Homo sapiens: one gene and its partner. The protein of the gene in region 1 purifies or fractionates together with the protein of each later gene. This does not show direct contact. Each region holds a gene or a part of one and is shown on either strand. Other genes may lie near its edges. The genes, in order: ABCC8 and LMBR1.

Region 1 (3,814 bases):
AATGGGACTGGGAGTGAAATTATGGCCTGAGGTCTGATCAGCCACAGAGAGGCTAAGGTTTGGGGTTCTGGGTGTGGTGCAGTAGTGTGCCTTTGATTAAATGGCTTCCCTCTGTGTGCCCCCGTTGTCCCCTCAGTAAGTGGGGATAAAATGCCCTGATTCACCCTCAGAGGGATGGAAATGTGTAGCCACAGAGTGGGTTCTTGCGGCCTGCAGAGGAGGCAGCTGAGAGCGAGGAGGATGACAACCTGTCGTCCATGCTGCACCAGCGTGCTGAGATCCCATGGCGAGCCTGCGCCAAGTACCTGTCCTCCGCCGGCATCCTGCTCCTGTCGTTGCTGGTCTTCTCACAGCTGCTCAAGCACATGGTCCTGGTGGCCATCGACTACTGGCTGGCCAAGTGGACCGACAGCGCCCTGACCCTGACCCCTGCAGCCAGGAACTGCTCCCTCAGCCAGGTGTGACTGGCGGCCCATGGCAGAGGTTGGGAGTGGGGATGGGGGAAGGGCTGAGCCCATGGGCACCCTGGAACTCCAAATCACTCTCTGCCTGTGAAGGAGTGCACCCTCGACCAGACTGTCTATGCCATGGTGTTCACGGTGCTCTGCAGCCTGGGCATTGTGCTGTGCCTCGTCACGTCTGTCACTGTGGAGTGGACAGGGCTGAAGGTGGCCAAGAGACTGCACCGCAGCCTGCTAAACCGGATCATCCTAGCCCCCATGAGGTACCCGTCTCCCCTGGCCAGGCTGGGACTGTGAGCAAGTCACTGTTCTCTGAGCCTTAGTCTTCCCATCTATAAAATGGGGATATACAACCTGTCACAAGCTTGTGGGGGTGACTCAAGGAGACAGTGTGTGTAAAAGTGCCCTCCTTGTGCAAGAAGCAGGGAGAAACTGGCATTTACTCAGCCAGATACTGTGATAGGCATTGTGTGTGGTTAGCTCATTTAATTGTTACCATGGCCCTTTAAAGTGAGCGTCTGCACATCCAAGTAAAGATTGTTTTCTCCTCCCTAAGTGGGTGTAATTTGCCCATCCCCACCCATGAGTTCAGCTCCCTGCCCTCCCCTCACTCTCTCTCCCTCAGCCAGCCTCAGGTTTTGACACTGGGGGAACAGGTAGCTGTTCTATTAATAATTTCCTGTAATGGGATGGATAAAAATCTCAAAGGCCACTTGATGTCAAAGAGGTTTAAAGTTGTCCCTGCCCAATTGGTTGGCCAACTTGGCTTAAAAACACAACAGGCAAACAGATTTTCTGGCCCCTTGTCGAGGCTAGACCTCACAATCTAACTGCACTTTTTACTTTCCAGCCTCATGAGTTTTCTGTGGCCCACAGATATGGCCTCCAAGTTTATTTACTTTTACTCTCTATTTGCCCCAGCTCTGTAGTTCTGAAACTCCCTGGTTGGGGTTGGGCTGACTCTGGGTCAGCCAGCCGGCAGGCTGTCCCCAGGGCCCTGTTCCTCTTGGCAGGTTGTCCCTCTGGAGAGGACTCTGTGTCCCAGGAGGACAGCTGCTGAGTCAGGCCGAGCCGGCAGCTGAGAAAGGCGGCAGTCGTCAGATGGGCTTGAGAAACTGAAAGGCTAACGAAAGGCCAGCGCCCCTTTGGGCAGCTGCAGGAATTCACGGGGATACAGGCCAGATGTCTACAAATTGGCAGAGGATGCCAGACCCATGAATGACTCCAGAGACACTTACATGAAATAATTAACTATCTCATTCAGTAAACAGGAAGTAAATCAATGGACAAATGAGTAACTCTTCCTCTGGCTGCCTCTTAGGTTTTTTGAGACCACGCCCCTTGGGAGCATCCTGAACAGATTTTCATCTGACTGTAACACCATCGACCAGGTACAGAGGACCGTGCCACACTATCCCCCCTTCCAGAGACACCTCGGACCCCTGGGGGCTTCTCCTGTCTGAGGCTGGGTTCCCCAGATCAGGTGATCACAGCCCTCTGGGAAGAAGCCAGTGTCCCCGATCCGATTATAATGCTGCTTCAGGGCTGGGGCCTCCCTCGTGGGAGCCTCACAGTAAGGCTGAGGGAAACCAGATCCCTTTAGCTTCCACCTGAGATCCCACTGGCTTTCTCTAGTAAAGTTCCAGCATATTCTGAACCAAGGTGGCTGATTGTATGGAGAATATTCATTTTGATTCAGCCTGTGTTCTTTATTTACCATTGTACCAGATGGTGTGAAAACAAAATCTTGATTCCTACCTCAGGGAGTTTACCTTGTAGCTGGAGAGATGAGATACGTGCCTATAATAAAGGGAGAGCAAGGCCGGGCTCAGTGGCTCACTCCTGTAACCCCAGCACTTTGGGAGGCGGAGGCAGGCGGATCACTTGAGGCCAGGTGTTCAAGACCAGCCTGATGGCCAACATGATGAAACCCCTTCTCTATTAAAAATACAAAAATTAGCCAGGTGTGGTGGCAGGTGCCTGTAATCCCAACTACTTGGGAAGCTGAGGCAGGAGAATCATTTGAACCCAAGGGGCAGAGGCTGCCGTGAACCGAGATTACGCTGCTGCACTCAAGTCTGGGCAACAGTGAGACTCAGTCTCAAAAAAATAAAGGATCAAAAAATAAAGTGAGAGCAAAACATGGCGGCCAGTAGCACTCTAAACACAGTCAATACCAAAATTCACCTCACTCTCTCCCCCTCGTCTCCCTCAGCACATCCCATCCACGCTGGAGTGCCTGAGCCGCTCCACCCTGCTCTGTGTCTCAGCCCTGGCCGTCATCTCCTATGTCACACCTGTGTTCCTCGTGGCCCTCTTGCCCCTGGCCATCGTGTGCTACTTCATCCAGAAGTACTTCCGGGTGGCGTCCAGGTGATGGCCTCAGGGGTGAGGGGTGGGAGGTGCTTTGCAATGTGCAGTTTGGTGTACTTGCTAGACTCATCGTTATGAGAGTAATAGGGTCGTGTTCCCTCCAAAAAATAAAAACAAAAAACAGAAATGAAGGAAATAGAAATATCCACATCTTATTCCACCGCCCTAATATAATAGTCTGCCAACACACGCACACACTGAGGTTGACATCTGAATTATTTCCTTGGGCGATATGGTCAGGACTGGAATTGCTAGGTCATGATAAATGCACATTTTATGCCCTTCATTCATTTTGCCAACATGCTTCCCAGGAGGGTTGCATCATTCTAGTGGTCAGGCTGATTGCTGATGCATGAAATCGGCGGGCACCTGATTCAAGCAGTGTTATGATAACACCTCCCAGCCCACGTGAGTCCAGAGTGTAGCTGTAAGCCTTGACTTGAGGGAGCCTCTCACAGCCATTCTCATGGATCACATTTGCCCTCATGAGCTTTGGATCCATGCACGCCTCTTTCCTCCTCAAAATTTTCTAAGAATGTTCTCTAGGGAGTTCTTTCTGGGAGTGATTCTCCCAGATTCATAGAAACTCATAGATTCAAAAAATTGTAGGAAAAAATTTAAAGAACGTCTAGGCCAGTGTTTCTCAAACTGCCAATTACAGCCCATCAGTGGGTCATGAAATCAATATCATGGATCACAACCAGCATTTTTTTAAAAATGAAAAAAACATCAGACTGTATTCATAGAGTAAAGCAAGCTTTGCTTCATGAAACCTTTGTGTTGGTCATGGAGGTGTGTGAGTACTGATTTGTGAGATAAAATATATTTCTGACTGCAGGTTGTGGTCAGAAAGGTTAAGTACCTTTCCCAAGTGCACATAGTTGGCTAGAAACTAGAGTTGAGATACTTATTAGCAATAATAAAATTTAGATGCATTTTGGACACAATTACCTGCCCCAAAGGATCAACATTTGTATAAA
Region 2 (3,814 bases), on another chromosome or scaffold:
ATGCCAGGCAAGGGTTAAGTAAAGCATCCCCTTAAAGAATAAACTGGTTCTAACTGCCTCAAGGTGTTTCTTTTTTTCTAGCGGCTAAACAAGCACTGGCCTCCAGATAAGCAATATTAAGATAACTGCAGCTCACTCACTGCCAGACCCTAAGTGATCCCCACTCTCCTGTTCCACAAGCCATAACTATAGCTTTGATTGGACAAGAGACTGATTTCAGTAACTTTCTCCTGATAAGAGCACTGAGCATGAACTGGTTCTGGCCAGTTTACAGAGGCTGTGCACTTCAGTGCCTTCATGTCCCTGCTTCGCCATCTGACTACAGGGCCTCATTGTAATCCTTTTAGATGTTAAGTCTCCACCCACAAGTGAATATGGATAAGTATGTAACATACATGTTTATTCAGCCTGCATGTGCATGACCTCCCCCACTTTGTGAATATTCATAGCTCCTCCTATAACCTGTTAAATATATAAACTTGGCCAACCCGTTCAGCATAAATCCCTGTTCTATCCTCCCTTGAAGGTCTGTTTCTGTGCTCTGCGGGAGGATGCTTCCCAGCTATCAGGATTGCCACCTTGTAGGCTGTGACTCTTTACAAAATTATTTTTGAGGCAGAGTGTGGTTCCGTCACTCAGGCTGGAATGCTGTGGCACAAACACGGCTTACTGTAGCCTCTATCTCCCAGGCTCAAGAGATCTTCCTACTTGAAGGAAGTCTTTTTTTTTTTTTTTTTCTTTTTTTGAGGCAGAGTCTCACTCTGTCACCCAGGCTGGAGTGCAGTGGCACTATCTCAGCTCACTGCAACCTCTACCTCCTGGGTTCAAGCAATTCTTGTGCCTCAGCCTCTTGAGTAGCTGGGATTACAGGTGCCACCACCATGCCTGGCTAATTTTATTTATTTATTTATGATATGGAGTCTCTGTCACCCAGCCTGGAGTGCAGTGGCACAATCTCGGCTCACGATAACCTCTGCTTCCCGGGTTCAAGTGATTCTCCTGCCTCAGCCTCCCAGTAGCTGGGATTATAGGTGCCTGCCACCATGCCCGGCTAATGTTTTTGAATTTTTAGTAGAGGCAGGGTTTTACCATGTTGGCCAGGCTAGTCTCAAACTCCTGACCTCAAGTGATCCTCCTGCCTTGGCCTCCCAAAGTGCTGGGATTACAGGTGTGAGTCAATGCGTCTGGCCATTTTTGTATGGACGGGTTATTTCCGTGTTACCCAGACTGGTCTTGAACTCTCCTGGCCTCAAGTAATCCTCCTGCCTCAGCTTCCCAAAGTGCTAGAATTAGAGGTGTGAGCCACCATGCCTGGCCTGGCTGCGCAATCTAAATTCTTCCTTATCCTGGGTATGGCTTAAGCTCCCCTCTTGGCTAGAATATTTTTGGAACCAAGTCTGGGGTTGACTGGGACTTTTTTTTTTTTTTCTTTTACACGGAGTCTCGCTCTGTCACCGAGGCTGGAATGCAGTGGAGCGATCCTGGCTCACTGCAACCTCCGCCTTCCAGATTCCAGTGATTATCCTGCCTCAGCCTCCCAAGTAGCTGGGATTACAGGCGCCTGCCACCATGCCTGGCTAATTTTTGTATTTTTAGTAGAGATGGGGTTTTGCCATGTTGGCCAAGCTGGTCTTGAACTCCTGACCTCAGGTGATCCGCCCCTGCCTCGGCCTCGCAAAGTGCTGGGATTACAGGCATGAGCCACCGTGCCCAGCCAGACTGGGACTTACACAACAGAGATTTTAGAACCTTCCCATTTAGTTGGCTCCTTTTAGGCCAAATGGGAGGTGGGGAGATAATGGGGATAGAAGTATCCTTCATCTACTGCCTCTCTAGATGAGTTTACCTGCTGTTTTCTACTGGTGTCTTGCCCTCAACTCTATGGCTTACCCTTTATGCAGGAGATAAAAAACTTTAGTCCTTCCCACTTGGGAATAGTGGTTGGGCAGAAGGTGGGAACCAATCACCAATCTTGTATGTAAGTTCAGAATGCAGTTATCTTGGAGTCTGTAGTCTTCTGACCTTTGTCATTGCCCTCCAGTGAAAGACCTCCAAGAGCACACCTGTAGTTGGACAAATTGGGCTTATTGCATATTTCAGTGAGTTCCATGGGGAACTGTGGGGTGTTTCAGTAACTTTTCAAATGGGATTTGGGCTTCTACTAGGTAGTTTGGGAAGGGTTTAAGGAAGTGAGGCTTTGATCTGTATGGGGTGCTGTTAGGAAGCTGGAAAAATTCTGTAACTGGATAGCTTAAGAAATCTTTTCTAGAAGGAAAGAAGACTGGAATAAAGCTAAAGCTGTAACTGGTAAAGAAGCAACAGTCATTCCTGTTAGCCAGGATAGAGAGTTGGTCATTTCTGTGATTTGGACAATGTTCATGTTTTTTTTTTTGCTTGTGTTCAGGAGTGATTACAGAGTGGTCTTGTTTAGTCTTTATCCATCATGGTCTTGTCTGATATTGATGTTCTCTGAAATTGTTGATGTTCAGCAGAAGAGTCAGTCATCAAGGCCTAGGTGTGTGCCTTGCTCTGAGTTGTTAGCCAGTTTACAGCAACACCAAGGCCCAGCTGTGATATTACCAGGCCAGCTCCCAGATGTCAGGGGCTGCATTTCTTTTTCTCACGTGGTTGTAAAGTCTTCTAGTGGAATGATGTATTAGAAACAAATCCAATAGCCAACATAAGTTGAAGTGATTTTCTAACATAGAAGAGCAAAAAGGAATGGGATAGAGGTATAGAGGTTTCATTTGTATTTGACTTTTCTAAACTGGGTTAAATCAGCTTCCCCTCTGCGGTAGGCAGCATAATGGCCCCTGAAGTTGGTAATCCATGTGGTAATCCCTGGAGCCTGTGGTGTGTTACTTTACATGGGTAAAGGGATTTTGCAGATGTGAGTATGTTAAAGGAGAATTACCCTGAATTATCCAGGTGGGCTCTATGTGGTCACAGGGTCCTTATAGGAGAGGCAGGAGGGTCAGAGTCAGAGGAGATGTGATGACAGAGGCAGAGTTGGAGTGATGCCCTTTGAGGAAGGAGGAGGGACCATGAGCCAAGGAGTGTGGGCGGCCTCCAGAAGCTAGAAACGTCAAGGAAATGAATTCTTTCCTAGAGTCTCCAGAAGGAAGCAACCTTGCTCACGCCTTGATTTTAGCCCAGTGAAACTCAATAAATTTGTGTTGTTTTAAGTCACAAAGTTTGTGTAATTTGGTTACAGCAGCCATAGGAGATTCCTACTCCTTCATCAGGAGGCTTTGACTTTCACTGCTGTCCCTGTATATCTTACCACTCCATAGTTGTGTACTTGAGGTTAAAGGAAACTGGGACATTCTAATTACATTTGAGATAATTTTTCATGTCTTCCTATTCTGTCCTCCTTTTTTTTTTCTGAGATGGAGTCTTGCTCTGTTGCCCAGGCTGGAGTGCAGTGACATGATCTTGGCTCACTGCAGCCTCCGCCTCCCGAGTTCAAGCAATTCTCCTGCCTCAGCCTCCCAAGTAGCTGGGATTACAGGTGTGCACCACCACACCTGGCTAATTTTTGTATTTTCAGTAGAGACAGGTTTCACCTGTTGGCCAGGGTGGTCTTGAACTCCAGACCTCAGGTGATCTGCCTGCCTTGGCTTCCCAAAGTGCTGGGATTACAGGTGTGAGCCACCATGCATGGCCCTGTCCTTCTTTTTTAAACTTGATTGTATTGCAGTAAGAATACCTAATGTGAGATCTACCCTCTTAACAAAAAATTTTTTTTTTCAGTCAGAGTCTCGTACTGTCTGTTGCCCAGGCTAGAGTGCAATAGCGTGATCTCGGCTCACTG

The links.
Region 2: the proteins of ABCC8 (region 1) and LMBR1 purify together in Homo sapiens (affinity purification with mass spectrometry; one large-scale study listed by BioGRID and IntAct). This does not show direct contact.

What each region holds. Positions count from the first base shown.
Region 1 is NC_000011.10:17,403,532-17,407,345, reverse strand, and holds part of ABCC8 (ATP-binding cassette sub-family C member 8), read left to right. Parts: intron 1-136; exon of another isoform or gene 137-216; coding exon 217-458; intron 459-557; coding exon 558-724; intron 725-1,782; coding exon 1,783-1,852; intron 1,853-2,676; coding exon 2,677-2,834; intron 2,835-3,814. UniProt on the Homo sapiens protein: Regulator subunit of pancreatic ATP-sensitive potassium channel (KATP), playing a major role in the regulation of insulin release.
Region 2 is NC_000007.14:156,882,971-156,886,784, reverse strand, and holds part of LMBR1 (limb region 1 protein homolog), read left to right. Parts: intron 1-3,814. UniProt on the Homo sapiens protein: Putative membrane receptor.